Regions from separate parts of the Homo sapiens genome. Here region 1 is linked to region 2. Evidence: fine-mapped expression QTL. A gene starts in region 2. The other region holds a variant in brackets. All regions are shown on one strand. Distances are between the middles of the regions.

Region 1 (11,924 bases), 42 kb after region 2:
ATATGCATATTATTTTACATTTTTTATTATTGAAGTATAATTTACATATAATGCAAAACACAGATATGAAGTGTACAGTTTGATCAGTTTTGACAAAAGCATACACCCATTTAACCCATACCTCTCTCTCAAGATATAAAACATTTTCATCTCCCCAGAAAAAGTTGCTTTGGGACTTTCTCAGTCTATCTCCCCAGAAGAAATCATTGTTCTGATTTCTATCACCATAAATGGAATCATTACAAAACTTTTTTTTTTTTTTTTTTGAGACGGAGTCTTACTCTATCTCCAGGCTGGAGTGCAGTGGTGTGATCTCAGCTCACTGCAACCTCTGCCTCCTGGGTTCAAGCAATTCTCCTGCGTCAGCCTCCTGAGTAGCTGGGACTACAGGCACGCACCATCATGCCCAGCTAATTTTTGTATTTTTAATAGAGACAGGGTTTCACTATGTTGGCCAGGATGGTCTCAATCTCTTGACCTCGTCATCTGCCCGCCTTGGCCTCCCAAAGTGCTGTGATTACAGGCGTGAGCCACCGCGCCCGACCACAAAACATTTTTTTAAAGTCAGTAAATGTCATTTTTAAAAATATAAGGCCAACTGCAAATGCCTGGAACTGTTTAACACCCAACCAGACCCTAACTGATTCAGTTAGAAGATCTGAACTCTGTATGGAAAGCTTCCCTGTATCAAAGATCTGGAAAGATACTTCACCACCAAGGGCACAGGGAGGAGACATGGATATAAAACACATACATGGAGAAAAAAAGTCGCTTTAAAGAACAGGAGAAAAGGCCATGCTTCTAACCTTTCTTAGGGCTAGCAAGCTGAGAACTCCACACGCTGTATGCAAGGATTCCTCTTTGGAGGACCCTTTCAAAATGGCTTTGTTGACACCTACACAGCACAACCAAGCCCCCTTTCTACCACACACTGCTCCTCACCCAGAGTCTCTGGCCTCCGAGTGGAGATCCGCAGGCTTTCAGCAGGGATGGGGCCAAGCTGCAGCAGTGTGCCAGCCAGCTGCTTCCCAAGGTGGCCACCTCCAATGATGCCCACCTTAAACTCTTCAGGAGTGGCTGAATTAAGGGAGCCAATTGAGAGATGTCTGGAACTTTGATTCTTATTTAATGATGCTCTGGAGAATGAACACACAGACACGTACATAAATACATGCACACACTAGTTTTTCTTTTTTTTTTTTTTTTTTGAGACAGAGTCTTGCTTTGTCGCCCAGGTTAGAGTGCAATGGGGTGATCTTGACTCACCGCAAGCTCCGCCTCCCAGGTTCACGCCATTCTCCTGCCTGTCTCCCGAGTAGCTGGGACTACAGGTGCCTGCCACCACTCCCGGCTAATTTTTTGTATTTTTAGTAGAAACAGGGTTTCACTGTATTAGCCAGGATGGTCTCCATCTCCTGACCTCGTGATCCACCCGTGTTGGCCTCCCAAAGTGCTGGGATTACAGGCGAGAGCCACCGCACCCGGCCTAGTTCTTCTTAACTGTCATTCTCTGACATTTTCTGCTTTGTCATTTAAGGTGCTTGGTGGCACCTTAAGTACTTCGGAGATAAGACATTTCAACTGTGTGTCATTTATCCAGCCTCACTAGGGAATGAAATGTTCCTCCTGAGTTAATTTTCCAGAAACAAAAGTATAACCCTTTTCAAGGGACCAAAATTTAAAATGTTTTAAATGAACATACTTTGTTACATGTATTATGCTTGCCTGGTTAAACAGTCTGAATATTTAATCATTTCACTGGCTCAGGACACCACTGTGAACAGCCACTATTATACAGCATACTGTAATGTCTATAACACATTGTGGGCCAGTCCCCTCATGTTTTGTTTGTTTCTGTGCAGACAGCTTTCAATTTTTTTTTTTATTGTGGTTAAAAAACACATGCTGGGTACGGTGGCTCACATCTATAATCCCAGCACTTTGAGAGGCCAAGGCAGGCAGATCACTTGAGCTCAGGAGTTTGAGACCAGCCTGGGCAACATGTAAGACCTCGTCTCTACAAAAAATACAAGAATTAGCCAGGTATGGTGGTGCACACCTGTAGTCCCAGCTACCCAGGAGGCTGAGGTGGGAGGATTGCTTGAGCCCAGGAGTTTGAGGCTGCAGTGAGCTGTGCTCGTGCCACTGTACTCCAGCCTGAGTGACAGAGCAAGACCCTGTCTCAGGAAAACACACACACACACACACACACACACACACACACACACCATGAACTTCACCATCATAACCATTTTTAAAGTGCACAGTACAGTTGTGTTAATTATATGCACATTGTGGCTAGGCATGGTAGCTGATGCCTGTAATCCCAGCACTTTGGGAGGCCAAGGCGTGTGGATCACTTGAGGTCAAAAGTTTAAGACCAGCCTGGCCAACATGGTGAAACCCCATCTCTATTAAAAATATAAAAATTAGCCCAGCATGATGGTGTAAACCTGTAGTCTCTGCTACTCAGAAGGCTGAGGCAGGAGAATCTCTTGAACCCGGGAGGTGGAGGTTGCAGTGAGCCAAGATCCACTACTGCACTCCAGCCTGGGCAATAGAGCAAGACTTGATCTCAAAAAAAGAAAATACATATAGATAGATAGATAGATAGATAGATAGATAGATAGATAGATAGATAGACAGACAGACAGACATATAGATATAGTTGTGCAACAGCTCTTTAGAACCTTTCCATCTTGCAAAACTGGAACTCTATATGCTTTTTTTTTTTTTTCGAGACAGTCTCCCTCCATTGCCTGAGCTGGAGTGCTGCGGCACAATCTCAGCTCACTGCAACCTCCACCTCTCACATTCAAGCAATTCTCTGCCTCAGCCTACTGACTAGCTGGGATTACAGGCGCGTGTCACCACACCCCACGCCCAGCTAATTTTTGTATTTTTAGTAGAGATGAGGTTCTCCATGTTGGCCAGGCTGGTCTCGAACTCCCCACTTCAAGTGATCCGCCCACCTCCGCCTCCCAAAGTGCTGGGATTATAGGCATGAGCCACCACACCCGACCTGAAACTCTATACAATTTTTCTCTCTCCCCAGCCCCTGGAAACTACCATTCTACTTTCTGTTCCACTACTTTAGATACCTCATATAAGTAGAATTATGCAGTATTGTCTTTTTGTACATGGCTAATTTCACTTAGCATAATGTCCTCAAGCTTCATCCATATCAATTTTTGGATTTTTTTTCTATCTTCATGAAAAATGTCATTGGGATTTTGATAAGGATTGCAGTGCATCTGTAGACAGCAATCTACAGGGTCATAGGACAATAGCGTGGGAAGGTCAGCAGATAAACAAGTGAACAAAGGTCTCTGGTTTTCCTAGGCAGAGGACCTTGCGGCCTTCCACAGTGTTTGTGTCCCTGGGTACTTGAGATTAGGGAGTGGTGATGACTCTTAAGGAGCATGCTGCCTTCAAGCATCTGTTTAACAAAGCACATCTTGCACCGCCCTTAATCCATTCAACCCTGAGTGGATACAGCACATGTTTCAGAGAGCACAGGGTTGGGGGTAAGGTCACCGATCAACAGGATCCCAAGGCAGAAGAATTTTTCTTAGTACAGAACAAAATGAAAAGTCTCCCATGTCTACCTCTTTCTACACAGACACGGCAACCATCCGATTTCTCAATCTTTTCCCCACCCTTCCCCCCTTTCTATTCCACAAAACCGCCATTGTCATCATGGCCCGTTCTCAATGAGCTGTTGGGTACACCTCCCAGACGGGGTGGTGGCTGGGCAGAGGGGCTCCTCACTTCCCAGTAGGGGCGGCCGGGCAGAGGCGCCCCTCACCTCCCGGACAGGGCGGCTGGCCGGGCGGGGGGCTGACCCCCCCACCTCCCTCCCGGACGGGGCGGCTGGCCGGGCAGAGGGGCTCCTCACCTCCCAGTAGGGGCGGCCCTTTCTTATTTTTAACGTAGGCATTTACCCCTATAAAGTTTGCTCATAGTACTGCTTTTGTTGCAACCCATAAGTTTTGGTATGTTGTTTTCATTTTCACTTAAGATATTTTCAAATTTTCCTTGTGATTTCCTGTTTGATTCATTGGTTGTTCAAGAGTTGTGTTGACTTCCACATATTTGTGAACTTTCTAGTTTTTCTTCTGCTATTTCTAGTATCATTCTATTATGGTCAAAAAAAAAAAAAAAAGACGGTTGGTATGATTTGAATCTTCTTAAATTTGTTAGGACTTATTTTGTGACCTAACGTGATCTATCCTGGAAAATGTTCCATGTGCACTTGAAAAGAACGTGTATTCTGCTGCTGAGTGGAGTGTTATGTACTTGTCCATTAGGTTCTAATTGGTGTGTCATGTTGTTCAAGTCTTCTGTTTCCTTACTAACCTTTTGTCTGGTTGTTCTATCCATTATTGAAAGTTGGGTATTAAAATCTCCTACTATAATTGTATACCTTCAGTTATGTCAATATTTGCCTCATATATGTGGATGTTCTGATGTTAAGTACATATATAATTGTTGTGTCTTCCTGGTGAATTGGTCTTTTTATCATCATGTCATTCTTTGTCTCTCATGACAGTTTTTGACTTAAAACCTATTTTGTCTGATACAAGTATGACTACTCCTGTTCTTTTTTGGTTACCATTTACGTGGAATTATCTTTCTCTATGGTCTGACTTTCAGCCTATATGTGTCCTAACATCTAAAGTGAGTCTCTTGAAGACAAGATATACGTTGGATCTTGTTTTTGTTTTTGTTTTTTATCCATTCAGCCACTCGGTATCTTTTGATTGATGGGTTTAATCCACTTACATTTAAAATAATTACTGATAGGGAAGGACTTATCACTGCCAGTTTGTTTTTTTCTCTGTGTTGCAGTTTTGTTCTTCTTTTCCTCTCTTGCTGCCTTCTTTTGTATTTCACTG[AT/A]TTTTTTTTTTTGTAATGACATTATTTTCTTTTTGTTGTTGGTATTTTCTTTGTAGTTACCGTAGGAAATTGCATAAAAATCATAAAAATAGTTGTAACAACCTATTTTAAGATGATAATGTCAATCATATACAAAAACTCTACTTCATCTTCCCCTACCCCTGCTTTTTGTTATTTATCTCATGAATTATATCTTTTGGATATTTTGTATCCATTAGCATGGTTTTATAGTAATAGGTTTTTTTTTAGTATTTTTATTTTTGAGACAGGGTCTCACCCTGTGGCCCAGGCTAGAGTACAGTGGCGTGAACACAGCTCACTTCAGCCTTGATCTCCTGGGCTCAGGTGATCCTCCCGCCTCAGCCTCCCAGGTAGCTGGGACTACAGGCACACACCATCATACTTGGCTAATTTTTGTTATTTCTAGTAGAGACAGGGTTTTACCACATTGCCTAGGTTGGTCTCGAACTTCTGGAATCAAGCGATCCGCCTGCCTTAGCCTCCCAAAGTGCTGGATTACAGGCGTAAGCCACCGTGCCAAGCCTATTTTTAATTTTTATTATTTATATTTATACTTATTGATATTTATAATTTTATTTTATACATTTTATTATTTCTATATTTACATTTTTATATACATTTTATTTATCTATTTATGAGACAGGGTCTCGCTCTGTCACCCAGGTTAGAGTGCAGTGACATGATCATTGCTCACTGCAGCCTCTACTTTCCAGGCTCAAGCAATCCTCCCACATCAGACTACCACGTACCTGAGACCACAGGTGTGTACCACTATGCCCAGCTAATTGTTTTTTTTTTTAAGAGATGTTGTCTCCCTATGTTGCCCAGGCTAGTCTCAAACACCTAAGCCCAAGCAATTCTCCTGCCTTGGCCTCCCAAAGTGCTGAGATTACAGGTGTGAGCCATCACACTTGGCCAGCTTTTATCTTTAAATCCTATACCACAATTAAAAATGATTTATGTGCCACCCATCACAGTATTATGTATATGGCTATATATTCACCTTTGCCAGAGAGCTTTTTATTTTTGTATACTTTTGTGTTGTTGACTAGCATGTTTTCATTTCAACTTAAGGATTCCCTTCAGCATTAGTTGTAAGGCAGGTCCAGGAGTGATGAGGTTTTTTGTTGTTGTTTATCTGGGAAGCTCTTTCTTTCTCTTTTTTTTTTTTTTTCTTGAGATAGAGTTTTGCTATTGTCACCCAGGCTGAAGTGCAGTGGTGCAATCTCAGATCACTGCAACCTCTGCCTCCCTGGGTTCAAGCAATTCTCCTGCCTCAGCCTCCCAAGTATCTGGGATTACAGGTACCTGCCACCATGCCCAGCTAATTTTTGTATTTTTAGTAGAGACAGGGTTTCACCACGTTGGCCAGGCTGGTCTTGAACTCCTGACCTCAGGAGATCTGCCCGCCTCGGCCTCCCAAAGTGCTGGGGTCACAGATGTGAGCCACCATGCCCAGCTTCTCCTTAGTTTTTGAAGCACAGGTTTGCAAGAGATAGTATTCTTGGTTGACAGGTTTTTTTTTTTCTTTTTCCTTTTTTTTTTTTTTTTTTTTGAGACAGAGTCTCGCTCTTTCGCCCAGGCTGGACTGCAGTGGTGCAATCGTGGCTCACTGCTACCTCCGCCTCCCGGGTTCACGCCATTCTCCTGCCTCAGCCTCCCAAGTAGCTGGGACTATAGGCGCCCGCCACCACGCCCGGCTAATTTTTTGTATTTTTAGTAGAGACGGTTTTTCACCATGTTAGCCAGGATGGTCTCGATGTCCTGACATCGTGATCCGCCCCCCTCAGCCTCCCAAAGTGCTGGGATTACAGGCGTGAGCCACCACACCTGACCAACAGGTTTTTTTTTTCTTTCCCCTTTCAGCACTTTGAATATATCAAGCACTCCCTTCTGGCCTGTAATGTTTCTGCTGAGAAGCCACCAATAGTCTTCTGGGAACTCCCTTGCATGTGATAAGTTGCTTTTTCTTTGCAGCTTTCAGTATTCTTTGTCTTTGACTTTTGATGGTTTGATTATAACGTGTCTCTGTGTGGTCCTCTTTGGGTTCATCCAAATTGGAGTCCTCTGAGCTTCTTGAATTTGGATGTCCATTTCCTTCCTCAGATCTGGGATGTTTTTGGCCATTATTTCTTCAAATAAGCTCTTTGCACCTTGCTCTGCCTCTCTTCTCCTTCTGACATTCCCATAAGGCATATATTGACCCACTTGATAGTATCCTGTAAGTCCTCTAGATTTTCTTCACTTTTCTTTTCTTTTTGCTCTTCTGATTTCATAATTTCAAATAACTGGTCTTCAAATTTGCTGATTCTTTCTTCTGTGTGATCAAGTCTAATGTTGAACCACTCTAGTGAGTTGTTTCAATTCAATTATTGTGCTCTCCAGCTCCAAATTTTGGTTCTTAGTTTCTCTTTATGATATTATTTTATTCATGTATTGTTTTCCTGATTTCATCAGTTTTTTTTTGTTTTGTTTTGTTTTTTCAGAGACAGGGTCTCACTATGTTGCCCAGGCTGGTCTCAAACTCCTGGGCTCAAATAATCCTCCCACCTCAGCATCCCAAACTGCTGGGATTACAGGCCTGTAATTTGTAATTTGTAATTTGTAATTACAAATTACAGGCCTGTAATCTGTAATCTGTAAACTTTGCCCAGCCTAGTTGTTTTTCTGTGTTTTGTAGCTCATTGAGCCTCTTTAAGATTATTACTTTGAATTCTTTGTTAGGTAACTCACAGATCTGTTTCTTTAGGGCTGGTTTCTGCAGTAGTTTGTTCTTATGGTTGAGCAATATTGCCTTTTTAATTTTTGGTGGAATTTGGGCATTTGAAAAAACAGTCAGGCCTCTCCCAATCTTTACAGACTGGCACCATACAGGGGAAGATCTTTCCCAATCAGCCCAGCTAGAGATTCTGGGGCCTGTCAAATCTTTCCAGGAATGTGTCTTCTCTGGGCTTGAGTTTGGAATTTCCCAATTAAAGAGTTTTGCCTGTTTCTATTGCAGGGGCTGATAATCTTTTCCTCACTTTGGTATCTATCTGCAGTACTGCAGGTTCTCTGTACTGCAACAAGCCACTGAGTGATCCTTTGTTTTCATCCAAAATATGTTGGTTCCTCATCAGTGCTCCAAGTCATGTGAGACAGAAACCAATCCCTCAGGCAGCCCCCAAAAAGGCAGAACAGTGGACAAACATTCCATTTTTCTTTTTCCCTCCAAAGGAGAAGCCACAAATTAGGCATTTTCTCCTGATCACCTGAGGCTGGCTTGAGGAAAGGGATATCTTAGGTGAACTGCAATGGCTTTTCTTACCCCTGTAAATGCAGCTGTTCTTGGATTTGTACCTCTCCAGGGCACTACAATTTCTTAAGTGCTTGCTGGAGGTTTCATAAAGGCTTTTTGGACCATATATTGTTGTTAAGTTAGTGTCTCGAGGTTACAGAGTCTGGAGCTTCCTATTTCTTCATCTTACTGATACCAATCTGAGACAGATGTCAATTTTTATTGCTATTAGATGTGAGTGCATTCCTTTCCTACGATACACCCACTCTTTCTAGTTTGCTATTTCAAATCTGCAGACTTGAGAAACCAGATAACTTGGCTTTTTAAGAAGGTTATGACTTATACACATAAATGGTTTATAAAAACAAAACAGTGTTCATTCAGGGTACAACTTTAAACTACAAAAACAAAACAAAAAAGAACAGAACTGAGAAACTAAGGATGAAGATTTCAGACCACTATTTCCAGAGGTTCACTTACTGTTGGTGCTGGATGTGTTTCCTTGGCGCAAGATTAACAAAGTCAGACTTCTGAATACATAAGGTATACTTTCGTTGCTATATGACAGCCTTATATTTGTTCTGTATTTCTGTAAAAACCAGTGTCTTAAAGCTCTGGATTTTGCTTCTAAGCAACATAAGTCACTCTCTATTTAAGCCTTCTCTCCTGGTTGAAAGAGCATTTTCTCTTAGTGCCTGATCCTTCCAAATATAAAATGCCACCTGCAAGTTTCATATATTGTTTTCTCCCAGTCATATTGAGTACCACCAATAGGTTTATGCATCCTTATCAGTAAGCCAGTCAGTAAATTCACTGAGAAGCCTGCCTCCTTGGACATGTGCTGTATCTATAAACATGTTCAATTCAAATTTGGTCCCACCATCTAGGAATTAATCTAACTTCAGAGAAAAACTAAGAAGTAGAGTGAGGAGGTGACATATGCTCCCAGAGTGACCTGGAGTTGCAGAATTCAGAAGCCTAATTATAGGTACCTGCTTCACACACATTTCCTATTTAAGTGTCTGAAGCCATATTGTAGAAAGATATCAGAATCAAGACTGGACTGACAGCTTTTCTGCAAATCAATATTCCTGGTTTCAAGGAAGTCACTGGCACAGGGCCTGTGAAGTCCCGGGTAGCTTCCTGTAAGGGAGCATTCCACTATTACCTCAGCCCCAAAAGAAAGAACTGATTCCATTTGCATTCCTTGCCAATAGATAAGGAATGGCTAGACATTAGCAACTGTGGAGGGCAAGCTGGTGGTCATGATGACTGAGTGAATGGATGAATAAATGATCATTTAATCAATCCATCCACTAAAAGGTAATCACTACTAATCCATGCTTTATTATGTAACCACAGCCAGGGGACCCTGGTATAGATTTTCCTGTCCTTTTAGACCAGGAGTCATTGACTCTGGGTTGGAAAAGATAGGATGACAATCCACCAGCCAAACTTACCCTCCAATATAAAAAAAATTTAAGACATTTGAATTCTCAGCAGTGAGATTCTTGTCCATCTTCCTGAATTTGGATACTCGGCTTACCTCAAATTATATAATAGTTTGCAGAAGAAGGTTGCATGGGCACAAGCCTCGATCATCAGTCCCCGAGAACGGCCCTGCAAATACAGCCAGATACGATCTTCCTCTGGAACCCCATACTCAAACTGCAGGGACTCAAGGTCCTGGAGCATGTCCATTTCCAAGCCACTATTTCCTGCAGTGATAGACACTAATCAATTTGGCTCCCTGTCCCGGTAGAAGAGGGGTCTATGTAGGAGGTGTGTGTATGATGGTGTGTGTGCCCAGGTCACAAGCACTCATGATGATGGGCTTCAGCACCTCTCTACTCCCAGATTCTGAATTTGGAATTCACCTCTCTTGAATTCACACTCTAGAGTGTGAGTGTTTGAGGATTCCTAATCACTGGCTGCCCATGAATCCTGGACTCATGAAAAACCTGTACAGAAACCCAAAGTATTGTTTCTCCACACAGGTTACAGGCACTGTTTTCGGCAGATGAATTTACAACAGCAATTGAGTTTTACAGGTATTCTTGGGCCAGGACGTTTTCCCTTCCATTCCCTCCTGCGTTTTGGAAATAGGACTGAACACATAGAACCACATTTCAAAGAAATGCTTCCCTTTCACTAAACTCTGTTCTCCACAGGGTACAAAATAACCCAAACTAAATATCATTGTCCCCTGTCTAGGGCAGGGACATCTAGATTTTACAAACTAAACTCAAAGTCATATAAACCCATCTACATATATCTATCACCAAACAGAGAAGATTGGCTCTGCTCCTCAGTACTTCTGATCCTGGAAGGTAAGAACTACATTTCTAAGGAGAATTACCAAGAAACTTGTGATTATGACTCCTTAACTACCAGATTACAGTCTCTAAGTCTTAAAGAGGCCAGCCCCACTTAGAGGTTTTCCTGAGCTGCGTATCAGGACATGAGTTCCTTCCACTATTTCTAGGAGTACTACACTAGAGCAGTATGAGACCCTCCTTTTCCCAACAGAAGATTCTGGATTTCTAGGGGTTTTTTTTGCAGACTAGAATATCTTACAGATCTTAGCACTACTTGAGTTAGTTTACAACTCCTTCTTTTTGTGTTCAAGAAACCAATAAAATTTTTTCAGGTGAAATCCACATAACATAAAATTAGCCATTTTAAAGTGAACAATTCATCAGTACATTCAGAATGTTGTGCCACCACCTCTATCTTGTTGCAAAATACTTTCATATTCCCAAAAGGAACGCCTACACCCATTAAGCAGTTACTCCCTATCCCTCCCCACCCTCAGCCTCTGGAACCACCAATCTGCTTTCTGTCTGAATGGATTTACCTATTCCAGATATTTTATATAAATGGAATCATACAATATGTGACCTTTTGTGTCTGGCTTCTCTAATCCCTTTTATAGGAAGGCTGTTATATGACGACACCATCTCTTTAAAAGCAAAGTCTCACCCTGGCGTGGTGGCTCACGCCTGTAATCGCAGCACTTTGGGAGGCCGAGGCAGGCGGATCGCTTGAGGTCAGGAGTTTGACCAGCCTGACTAACACGGTGAAACCCCATCTCTACTAAAAAGCTGGGCATGGTGGCAGCTACTTATTAGCTGGGTGTGGTGGCACGTCTGTAATCTCAGCTACTCAGGAGGCTGAGGCAGGAGAATTGCTTGAACCTGGGAGATGGACGTTGGTTGCAGTGAGCTGAGATTGCGCCATTGTACTCCAGCCTGGGCGGCAGAGGGAGACTCCATCTCAAAAAAATAAAAAATAAAATAAAGTAAAAGCAAAGTCTCTGCACTTGAAATGAGGGGCATGGACGTTCTCATCAAACCTAAGAAACATTTTCTTACACCAAAACAGTCAGTAGGTCATCCTAATGTTGCCAAGTAATGCTTCCTGCTCCGAAGGAAAAAGAAGCTCAAAACCTAGATTAGCATGACCAATGCAGCATACAAGTTGTACAGACATGAATTCTAGGCCTATCCTTTACTTATGCATTCTCAAAAGTGGGGATCAGTTGTTATATTTTGTATTATGTCACCTTGGCTAGGCTGAACTGCAATTTCCAGAATGTCCTTCCCTGTATGTTTCCAGTTAAGGTGGACCACCAGAGATATTTCTATGCAAGATCAGGAGGGTGGAAATGAACAGTAACCAGTCTGTGTTTCAGTGTGCATAATCAGGGGAAGTACTTTTGTAGTTC
Region 2 (11,924 bases):
TGCACTCCAGCCTGGGCAACAGTGCGAGACTCTGTCTCAGAAAAAAAAAAAGGTCGGGGGGAGCATGCTGGACATACTACTGTGTACTTTGTTCTTTCCACTTATATCTCAAAGACCTTTCCATAACTGCACATGAAAAGCTTCTTCATTCTTTTCTACAGCTGATTAGTATTTCATTGGGTGAATATTCCATAATGTATTACCATTACAAACAATGCCATAATAACCTTGTATCTATGTCATTAAACAGGAGAATAAATAAATCTATAATTCCTGGAAAGAATGAGTCAAAGGGGCATATATTGTAATTCTGATGGATATTGACAAGTTGCCCTCCACAGAATCTGTACCAATTTACAATCTCATTAGCAAAGCATGAGAGTGTCTGCTTCTGCACACCGACCAACAAAGTGAGTTAGCAAACTACCAAGTGTAGTTAGGATTTCCAATTCCCTTATTATGATTTAGGTTGAGCATTTTTCACATGGTAAGCACCACTTCTCATAGCATTTTAACAACTTAATGTATACTGGAAAAAAATATGCTTTTGATTTTTTTTCTTTCCATCCCATAAGGAGTTGAGCTTTTGATTTTTAACTTTAAAGGAATGCCCTAAATTATTTTTAATTTTAAAGAATGCCCTAAATTACATAAGAACTACTGGTAAAACAACTTATAATTGGATTCAGAGAGGCAGGAAGTAAGAAAAGGAGAAAGAAAAACATAACTTTATTTCCAGAAGTATAAAGTGTGGGAGATGCAGCGCTGTTTCAGTGAGAGAGAATTATGAGCACAGCCTTTTAGGTTTCCTGAAGTTCTTCAGTGAAATTTAAGCCACTATGCAGAAGAAAAAGCCAATTTTCCTATAGTATAGCTTTTATTATATTAGCCAAATATAAGCCAATTCTGAAAGTATTCCTAGAAGAGATCAGAGAAATCAGGCCAGACTTTGCAAATTTAGATGGTATGTGGGGAAATGTTTTTTATTTTTAAAAATATGTATTCTAGTATATATTAAGAAAAATGGATATATCAAACTAGTAATATCGTAGGTATTATTTAGAATGAAACTTTTAAGTGTCAATCAAAATGTCAATTAAATGTCAATGTCAAGAAAAAATAGTAAATAACTAATACTGTAACGGTATTCTCCAGTGTGGCAAAGTCATTACCATGGTTCCTCAGTGGCCGAAATCTCGGAAACAATGAACGGAGGAGGAAAAATGGAAGCTTAACAATAACTTAATTTATCATTGATGGCCACTAAAGCAAAGGTGAGAGAGAAAAAAGGAACTTCCTTAAAATAACTTATTTTATATTTGACAACTTTTTAAATGTGCATTTTCTTTCTACATTACCAAAGGGTCTGGTTTCAGACATTCTGATCATGCTAGGGATTCAAACTTACTGTGTACTTCGTACTTTCCCTACAAGGAGAACCAAAAAGCAGGTTTTTTTCAAAAGCATTTGAATATCAGGTCAGGGTTCTTTAGAACAGGCCTCAGAGGATTTCCCCCTCAGTAAACAGGCTGCAAAGAGATAATTAGCCTGTCATTTTAGATTCCAGTGCAGAAGAACTAAAAGCAGGCTATGTGGTTACAGACTCAAGAGGCTTAAACGAAAACAAATTAAGTGAGTTTATGTTCCAACCAAATCTAGTGACCATGTGATCCAATTTCTCTTCAGCCCTTGAGTGGGACATGCTCCTGAGAGGTCACTCAGATTGTGCACCTTTGGTTATACTGTTTAGACTGAATCACGACATGAATAATCAACTATCTGACTAATCGACTATCTGGACACTAAAAACACAACCACTGTAAGAAAAAGAAAGCCACAGGCAGACAAAATGTTAACATTTTGACATAAAACCACAATAGAAAACTAAAAAACATCAAGGCTGTTTGTCATTGACTCCCTATTATTCTTACCATTCAACATGGTAGCCACCAAATTTTGAATTTTAATTCATGCACATTGAAATAGCCACAGATATTATATATATATATATATATATATATATATATATATATATATATATATTTTTTTTTTTTTTTTTTTTTTTTTTTTTTTGAGACAGCGTCTCCCTCTGTCGCCCAGGCTGGAGTGCAGTGGTGCAATCTCGGCTCACTGCAACCTCTGCCTCCTGGGTTCAAGTGATTCTCCTGCCTCAGCCTCCTGAGTAGCTGGGACAGATATGAAATATTTTCATCACTGCAAAAAGACTTATTGTAATATTCTAACTTCTACCTTAGAACCATGAACAAGTTTACCTGACCTGTTTCCATCCTCAACATCTAAATGTATTGATAGCTCTGGGGGACATACACACCAAACTAAGTTCTACTGCTGACTTCAGGATCACAATAGAGTTTTATTTTCCTTTAAACTTAAAAAAAAAACAAAAACAAAAACAAAAAAACCTGCCTTTAAGTGATGCAACAAGTATGCCTCAGATAGTTTCATAATTAAAGAATGATTTATCTCTCCTCTGGGGAACTGAAGAACCCAGGTGCCTCAAATAAAAGACTATTAAAAACAATTACAATGCATAAAACAATAAGAACACCATGACCACTGGAGAGCTTAGTTCATAAGAACATAAATCCTTTCCTTCCTTTTCACCAAAACCTCAGCTAACAAACATGAAGACACTCAATAGGTATTCTCTGCAGAGAACACTTTTAAAAAACAAGTTATGGTTATTCTGGATAATGACACATTCCTGCTTTGAAGGAATAAGATACACCAAAAAACCAAAACCCTTAACTCAACAATACCTGATATGGCTTGGATGTTTGTTCCCTCCAAATCTCACGCTGAAATGTGATTTCCAATGTTAGAGGTGAGGTCTGGTGGGAGGTGACTGGATCGTGGAGATGAATCCCTCATGAATGATTTGGCATCATCCTCTTGATGATAAGTGAGTTCTCACTCAGTTAGTTCACCTGAGATATGGTTGTTTAAAAGAGTCTGGGACCTCCTCCCGTCTCTCTCTCTCTCACTCCCAACTCTCGCCATGTGACATACCTGCTCCCCCTTTCAGTATGATTCTAAGCTTCTTGAGGCCCTCACCAGAAACAGATACCAACACCACACTTCCTGTACACCCTGCAATACCATGAGCCAATTAAAACTCTTTTCTTATAAATTACTCAGTCTCAGGTATTCCAAATGGACTAACAGAACACCTGAATATCCAATTCCATTTCTTACTGCTGTTTTCTCTCTGAAAGGGTGAGAGAAATCTCATTAAATTTCATTCTTTCTTAGAGCTCTATTGCTTACTCATTGTATCATTTTCTAGAGGAAGATGGCAGAAGGATCCAATCAAACGAATTCCAAGTTTAAAGCAGTTTTTTGGGGTTTACGCCCAAGCCTCTGGTCCAGGCCAAATATAGTATTTCCACACTGCTTTGGAAGCCCAGCTTAACTCTAACACAGCGTTCCCAAAAGCAGCACCACTGACATCTGGAGCCAGATACCTCCTTGTTATGGGGATTGCCCTGTGCCTTGCAGGATGTTTAGCAAACATCCCTAGCCTATCCTCACTAGATGTCAGCAATAGCTGCCACCAGTTGTGACGAGCAAAAATGTTTCCAAACATTGCCATGCCCTGGGGATACAAAATCGTACCTGGTTGAAAACCATTGCTCTAACCCAAGGAACATTCTTGGTTATCTCAACCCTAATTCTTCACATTCATTAGATGCTCATCCAGATCTCTGCATTCAGACTTTCTCTCACCATCAAACTCAGCAAATATTTGCGAAACCTCTAAAACACAACATCAAGGGCTCTAGATAAATAAACAAGCAAGAGAGATTCCGTTCCTAACTCCAAGCAGGTTTCTTAGTAGATAAAGAATTGTAATAAAAGACGCCCAATTATATAATGTTTTGAATTGTTAATTGTTTCTCCCTGAAATGGATCTCTCATCTCATCAAACTGAAAACACCTTGAGGACAGAGACCATAACCTGTCTGCGAGTACCAATACTTGATTCATGGCCAATAAAAACAAACAATTATAGACTTCATCATAACAAGATGACAATTTCATCCAGACAGTAAAAACTTGCGCTAACTTGAACAGGTAAGTTAACCTTTCTCAGCTGTAGTTTGTTCCTCTGTAAAATGGGAAGAAAATGATTGTTGACATGACTAAATCAGAAAATATAAATTTTTTTCCACCTCTGGCACAGAATAAGCATTCAATATCTGTAGGTTATCATTACTATTATTTTATTAGCAACAAATCCTACCTCAAGAGGAAGAGCTTGCTCTGGGCTACTATAATAAACCCCTACATGACATTAAAAAAAAAAATTATCACCCTGCATTCTGAGGGTAAGAGGAAGGAAAGTAAGCATCTCTACCAATGTCCTGGGAGGAAGTGAATGCAGGAATGAATTAGATGTCAGGGGGAAAAAAAAACACACTCATCTATCTAAAACGCGTGGGTACGTTTGCCATAAACACATGAGAACCTAAAGGGGAAGTAAAAACATGCTTAATTTGTAAATACTGGCGCATGCAAGGGACAAGTGTTATAAGACTTACCTTTCTGTGTTTACTTGCTTAGTCTTTTAGACATTATGCTTAGAATTTCTACTGCTATGTTAAATATATGCCAACGATTTTTAATTTAATACAAAGCAGAGTTCGTAAGAAAAAAAGGCAAAATTTGTCAGGTGTTTTAAAGTAAAAGAATATAAAATCATGGGAAAGAGCTGGGTGAGTTGTGTGTGTGTTTGAATAAGGCAGCATTATGAGAGGGAAGATACTTGGGATCAGAGTAGAAGACAGAAAAAGGCACCATGTTGGAAGCCATACATCCAAGAACACCTCTGGCGGCACAGGAAGTTCAACTGAACAAAAAGAGACCTTACTGTCACAATGGTTGAGACGAGTATAGTGTGTACCATGGACTATACCCCAAATGCCTTAGACAAAGCAGCTCAAGTAATCCTCACAATAATCCTATGAGGCAGATATTTTTAGTAATCACATTTTACAGATGAGGAAACTGACGTTTCAGACTCCAATCCAGGCACCCTGGCTCCACAGTAGTGCCTCAACCATTATACTTTATGGTGTCTATTTTAATTTCAGACCTAGAAAATTAATTTATATTTGCTACTTAAATAAGACAAGTTCTCTCCCCTCTACCCTTTCGTATTTCAAAAGAGCATCCTTTCAGTTGCATCGTGTGTGGTGTTCAGGAGGCTGAAAGAAGAAAGTGTGATGGATGGACTCTTTTGTCTTTGGACACTGAAATAATACACACGGAGGAACTCGCGTTAGTAGAAATGGAGACGTCGTCCTGGACAAGAAGAGGATGAGGGTCTTGAGAATGAGGGAGGTAGGCCAAATTTTTAATTCCTGCTCTTGCTTTGGCTACTGTGTTCAAGCAAAAGACCCCAGACACTACCTATTTCAACTCTGCTTTTCATTTTTCCCACTCTAAGCGATGGAGAGGATGGCAGCAAGGCCAGGGGGCCTATGTGCAGGAAGGCTAGGGCGCAGTGGGCTTCTGGCAGAGGAAGGCAAGGCTGCCAACCCGGGTGGGGGCCGAGAGGCGCGTGGTAAGGCTGGGGCAGGGGACTGAGATGGGGATAGGGTGGGGAGCCAGAAGCAGGGGGCGGCGAGGCCAGTAGGGTTCGGGTCGGCAGTCTAGATGTGATTAGCAGACGGAGGTGGGACCCGAACCCCGGCTGAAGCTGAAACTGAAGCTGAAGAGGCGCCAGGGGCAGAGCCACCCTGTCACTACCATTTGGGCAGATCTCAGAAAGGAAGCGGGGCAGGAATCAAGGCATTTCGAAACAGGAGTGAGTAGAAAATAACCTCGAGCCCAGGGCCCGGGTGGTGGCAGCGGCGGGGAAGGGGCCCCGCGCGCGAAGGGGCTGCCGAGGTGGGTCCGCTCCGCGGGGAAGCCCAGGACAGAGCGCGGCGGAGGCTCGCGCCGTGGTGCGGGGCCCTGAGGCCGGGCGGCACCCACCCGCCAGCGCCCCGGCCTTGCGTACCTGAGGCGGCCGCCTGGCTCCCCTCCACTCCCTGGCAGTCCCCGACGCCGCCAGCCGACCCTGGGCGGGCTGTGGGGCTCCAGGAGCCCGGCCCCTCAGCCGCCTGCAGGTCAGACATCTGCAGCCCGCGCACGGAGCTCTCCGCTGCCAGCCGCGAGTGGCTCCGGAAACAGCCGAAGGCCGAGCGAGCGCCGAGCACAGCCGAGCGCAGCCTGCAGGCCGGAAGAAGCGGCGCGGCGGCCGCTTGAAAAGCTAGCTGACCCAGGGGCGGCCACAGGAGCTCTGGCCCGCTGAGGCTGGCGATGAGGCCGCAGGGAGGGTTACTGCGTGCTTGTGACAGACGATTTTTAAAGTCAGGGCTTGAAAGAACAAACAAAACCTGGGGAAGAGTCAGGAAGACACTGCCGGAAATCGTGGTATCCATAGAGACGCTATCGGAAGTTGGGGTTGCTAGGAAGCCGCGGCGCGTCTGCTAAGCTGCAAATGGCTGAAGTCCCGGAGGATTATGATTCCGGCCCAGATGAAGATGGAGAGCTGGAGCCTGAGAGGCCTGAACTGCCTGGACTTCATAAATTGTATGAAAATGCCGAACCAGACACCATGGCAAAGGCAGACTCGAAGCTACCAGCAGAGATTTACCAAGAGCCACAGCCAGAGACCGAGGAAGAGGACTTCAAAGAGGGGGAGCCAGACAGTGCTAAGAACGTGCAGCTGAAACCTGGCGGGACGTCCCAGGAAGGAATTGCCAAGGAGTCCAAGAGAGACGTACCAAGCGAAACTGAACCAGGGATACACCAAGAGGTAAAGTCGGAAACATCCAGAGAGATGGGAGAGTTTTTCAAAGATTTGGAGGCCCCTATGGATGAAACGCATAAAGAGTCAGACCTAGAGCCACCAGAGGAGGCTAAACCAAATGTTACAGAGGATGTGTTCCTAGAGTCAGCTATGGAAACAGATCCAGATCCAGTGCCACCAACGGAAACCATGTCTGAGGTTTCGGGGGCCACAGTCAGAGAGAGAAATTTAGAATTACTAGAGGAGGAGACTGAACCGGGGGTTCCAGAGGAATCACTTAGAGTGCAACATGAAGAGACAGGTCTAGAGCCTCCAGAGCAGACCAAACAAGATTTTCCAAGTGAGAAACTAGGAGAATCACTTGAAGAGACAGATCTTCAGCCACCAAAGATGACCAAACCAGAGACTCCAGAGGAGACACAAAGAGAGTCAACTGAGAAGAAAAGGACAGAGCCACCCGAGCAGGCTAGACTGGAATTTCTGGAGAAGGAACCAAGAAAGTCTAGTGAGGAGGCAGGTCTAGAGCCTCCAGAAGAGACTCAACCAGAGGTTCCAGAGGAGATGCAAAGAAAGGCAACTGAGGAGAAAGGGACAGAACTACCTGAGCGGACTAAACCAGACTTTCCAGACCACAAGCCAAGAAAGTCTACTGATGAGAACGTTCCTGAGCCACTAGAAGAGATCAAATTAGAGTTTCCTGAGGAAGAATCAAGAAAAACAAATGAGGAAACAATTCTAGAACAATCAGAAATGATGAAACCAGAAAGTCCAGAAGAGATAAGAAAGTCAAATGAGAAAAAAAATCCACAGCCACCAGAGGAGACTGGTCCAGTGCTACCACAGGAGATCAACCCACAAGTTGAAGAGAAAACACAAACAAAGCCAACTGAGAAAATTCTAGAGTTACCAGATGAAACCAAACCAAGGGAGACACATGTAGAATTTTCCAAGGAAGACAGGCCAGAACCAATAAAGTCTAAGTATTCTGTAGGAAACGATGAGCTAGAGCACCGTGAGCCTAAAAGAGGAAAGTTGTCACTAAGTGACAAATTTAGAAAAGAATATTACGCATTAGGATCTCTCAGAGAAAGTGAAGAATCAATTGGTACACATTATGAGTTTTTGCAACCACTCCAAAAATTGCTTAATGTCAGTGAAGAATGCTCATACTCAGATCCCTCAGAGTCTCAGACAGAATTAAGTGAGTTCGTTCATGAAAAGGAAGTTGTAGATTTGTCCCAAGAGTTGAAGGAACGGGTCTCTGAAGATGACGAAACCCAGCCAGAAAAAGGGACTGAGTTACAATTTGAGCATCTTAATTGGGATCCAGAGGAAGTTGCAGAGTGGATTAGCCAGCTAGGCTTCCCTCAATACAAGGTATACAAAAATAAGATGTTTTGAAATCACATGCTGTCATCCGTCTACTTCTTATTCCTTCTAACTTGGCCTGAGCTCTTACCTCTTTACCGGAAGGAGTATCAAAAAGTCCTAGACTGTGGTAGAGGTAACTTGGATTTTAATTTTGGCCTTGCCACTGATGTATATTTGTATTTTGGGAGAGGAAGGGAGGGTCACATCGGTTTGTTTTTCCTCTTCCAGTGATTACACTTCTCTGCAATCCTTGAATAAAAGACCAAGAAGAGTATATAGACCTCCTTTCTTTTTTTTTTTTTGAGACACAATCTCGCTCTTGCCAAGGTTGGAGTGCAGTGGCACGATCTCGGCTCACTGCAAGCTCCACCTTCCCCAGGTTCACGCCATTCTCCTGCCTCAACCTCCTGAGTAGCTGGGACTGGGACTACAGGCGCCCGCCACCATGCGCGGCTAATTTTTTGTATTTTTAGTAGAGACGGGGTTTCACTGTGTTAGCCAGGATGGTCTCCATCTCCTGACCTCGTGATCCGCCAGCCTCAGCCTCCCAAAGTGCTGGGATTACAGGCGTGAGCCACCGTGCCCGGCCTTAGACCTCCTTTCATAGAAAACTGTATTTTTAAGTAGACTTTGTTCAAGGTAGGCTTTTTGGTACTTTGTCAAGTTATTTTAGTGGCAGCTCCCTTGCTTTGAACTTGTGCTATTACTTTTTAAAGTGTCTGCCCCAAATATGTCACCTGTATCATGAGCACTTAAGTGTATTAATTCAAGTTAGCCAGTTAACCAAAACTAGTTTTAGTAAAAAGTCAGTGTAAACCTCTTGTTTCACTGATGCCAACTAGGTTTAAGGCTACCACAAAACAATACAAGATCTGAAACCTTTTGTACCTACTATACTTACAAATGTAATTGAGACATGAAGAAGCACTGGTTGTACCATGCCCAAAAAAACAGTTAAAGAGCAGTGTAAAATTTAATAAAGAGCTTACATGGAAAAATTGTGCCGTTATTGGGATAGAAAGTAAATTTAAGCTACTCAGGAGGCTGGGGCAGGAGGACTGCTTGAGTCCAGGAGTTCGAGGCTGCAGTGATCTATGACTGCAGCACTGCACTCCCGCCTGGATGACAGAGTGAGACCCTGTCTCTAAAAAAGAAAAAACAAAATAATATTTTTTTCTCAGGGTAGAACAAACACGACTTCTTCCCTTCCTCCCCCTTCCCTCCCTTTCTTCCTTCTATTTGCAGTACATTTTTTAAGTGATGTCCTTGTTGTATTGACAGGAGTGTTTTATCACAAACTTCATCAGTGGCCGAAAACTCATTCACGTCAACTGCTCAAACCTCCCTCAGATGGGGATAACAAACTTTGAGGACATGAAGGTGAGTTGTGTCCAAAGTTTCCCTACAGAGCACTGTTAACAGTGCCACCATCTGTCTCAAACCAACCTTTTTTTCCTCCAGCCTGGCCTCCCACTTCTGTCAATGGTGTCATCATAATTCCAGTTCCTCAGGCTCACGGTGGTTGCCTCCTCTTTCTCCTTTGATCCCCATAAATATTCCAAGAACTGTCCATTGCTCCTGTGGCACTTACACCGTCTGGCTTTCTTCATTCCCACTTTTCAGACCTTATGGCCTCATGCCTAGAACACCACAGTGGCCTCCCGCTTTTAGCCTGTCTCAATGGACCCTTTGGATTCAAGGGCCCTGCTTTTATGCTCTCACTTTCCACCTACTTATGTACTATTCAAAAACCTTCTTTGGATCCCTTCTGCTTACCAAGATAGTCTCCACTCCCTAGTTTAGAATTTAGGGCCCTCCACAAGTTCTCTCCCCTACCACTCCTCCACATGAATTTTGTGCTCCAGCCTACCACCAGGTCTAACACCTTCGCAAACCTGCCTGGTGCGTTCTTCTCTCTATGTCTTCGCTCAGTTCCCCCATCCTCTGTATTACTAATATGAATCTTAATCATCCTTCAAGACCAGTTCCTCATTTGCATCTCCCCAAGAAGTCTTTTGTAACATTCCCAGCCCACAGTAGCCCCCATCCCAAGTTCTCATGACATTTTGTGTCTCTGACACCCATTTGGCACTTATATAACACCATATGTATTTTGCCTGCTTTGCTGCCTAACTTTGAAACAAGCTACATTAACCACTCTGAGCATCAATTTTCTAAAATCTCCAGCACCAACAGTTCATGATTATTCTCCTTTGCATAACAGTACCCTCCATTTGTAGTGCTTTGCAATTTACAAAGCATCACAAACAATCTCACGTGTAACCTCTCCTTTAGTACCCCACCCCAATAACCCTCCAAGAATGGACAGTTCTTGGCATAACCATGGTTTTGCTCAGCACACCCATGCCCAGAAATGTACCACCTCAGTGGTTTCCAAACTTGGGTCGTCTTCAGAATCAAATGAGATTTTTTGAAAAAGATACATTCCTAGGCTTCATCCTCCAGAGATTTTGATTCATTAGGGCTGGGTAGGCCCTGGAATCTCTTCCCTAGATGACTCTTCAACAGGCCTTATAACCCTAAAATTCCATAAGTCATATGGTTTAGAAATAAGAAAACTATGCTTGTTAATACCTGAGTCCTTTTACTAGCAAGAAGATATAACGAAACTTTTTAAATTATTAAACATACAGTCCTAACTGAGCGTTTACTTTCTTAAATTCTGCTAATAGCTATGCTTTGCTGAGAGCTTACTGTGTTTGGGGCCTCTTATATGTATTATTTCACTAATTCCCATTTTATAGAAAACTGGGGCCCAGAAAGGTGAAACAACTTAACAAGCTATTCAGATAATACGTTTTTTCTGTTTTTTGTCTTTGTTTTTGTTTTTTTTGAGACAGGGTCTCGCTCTGTCACCCAGGCTGGAGTGCAGTGGTGTAACCTTGGCTCACTTCAACCTCCATCTCCTGGTTTAAGCGATTCTCCTGCCTCAGCCCCCCAAGTAGCTGGGACTACAGGTGTGCGCAACCATGCCCAGCTAATTTTTTCTTCTTGTTGTTTTTTTGGGGTTTTTTTTTTTTGAGACCGAGTCTCACTCCGTTGCCCAGGCTGGAGTGCAGTGGTGCGATCTCAGCTCATTGCAACCTCCACCTCCCGGGTTCAAGCGATTTTCCTGCCTCAGCCTCCCGAGTAGCTGGGACTACAGGCGCGTGGCACCACGCCCAGCTAATTTTTGTATTTTTAGTAGAGATGGGGTTTCACCGTGTTAGCCAGGATGGTCTTGATTTCTTGACCTCGTGCTCTGCCTGCCTCGGCCTCTCAAAATGCTGGGACTACAGGCGTGAGCCACCGCACCTAGCCTAATTTTTGTATTTTTAATAGAGACAGGGTTTCATGATATTGGCCAGGCTGGTCTCAAACTCCTGACCTTAAGTGATCTGCCGGCCTTGGCCTCCCAGAAGTGCTGGGATTATAGGCATGAGCCACCACGCCCGACTTATATTCAGATAACAAGTTTAAGAGCCAGGATTTAAGTCCATCTTGTGTGACTTCCCAATCCATGTTCTATTTAACTGTATTGCCTAAGTGAACATTTTTGTTACCATAAACTTCCATGTACTATAAACATTATGATGTGGAAATGATCCTTTATTTATTTTATTTATTTTTTTGAGACAGAGTCTTGCTCTGTCACCCAGGCTGGAGTGCAGTGGCTCGATTTCAGCTCACGGCAACCTCCGCCTCCCAGGTTCAAATAATCCTCCTGCCTCAG

Direction of the effects. Positions count from the first base shown, and alleles are read on the strand shown. Sizes are in standard deviations (SD) of each study's normalised expression.
For the expression in lymphoblastoid cells of the gene that starts at base 6,184 in region 2, AT is the low allele of the variant in region 1 and A is the other (small effect, 0.37 SD a copy in TwinsUK).

The links. PIP is the estimated chance that this variant, and not a neighbour inherited with it, causes the effect.
Region 1: its variant is fine-mapped to the expression of TMED8 in lymphoblastoid cells (TwinsUK, PIP 0.95).

The regions. Positions count from the first base shown.
Region 1 is chr14:77,412,992-77,424,915 of GRCh38, forward strand. It overlaps NOXRED1 (NADP dependent oxidoreductase domain containing 1), which reads right to left and starts at 10,532. Exons shown (of 6, transcript NM_001113475.3): 1 at 9,744-10,532; 2 at 943-1,136. The coding sequence starts at 9,898. The variant AT/A (reference allele first, on the strand shown) is at 4,899.
Region 2 is chr14:77,370,911-77,382,834 of GRCh38, forward strand. TMED8 (transmembrane p24 trafficking protein family member 8) reads right to left here and starts at 6,184. Exons shown (of 6, transcript NM_213601.3): 1 at 6,026-6,184. The coding sequence starts at 6,143. SAMD15 (sterile alpha motif domain containing 15) reads left to right here and starts at 6,469. Exons shown (of 3, transcript NM_001010860.4): 1 at 6,469-8,197; 2 at 9,473-9,571. The coding sequence starts at 6,509. RefSeq lists silencers at 1,547-1,596, 5,762-6,191, 9,585-9,765 and an enhancer at 6,242-6,451.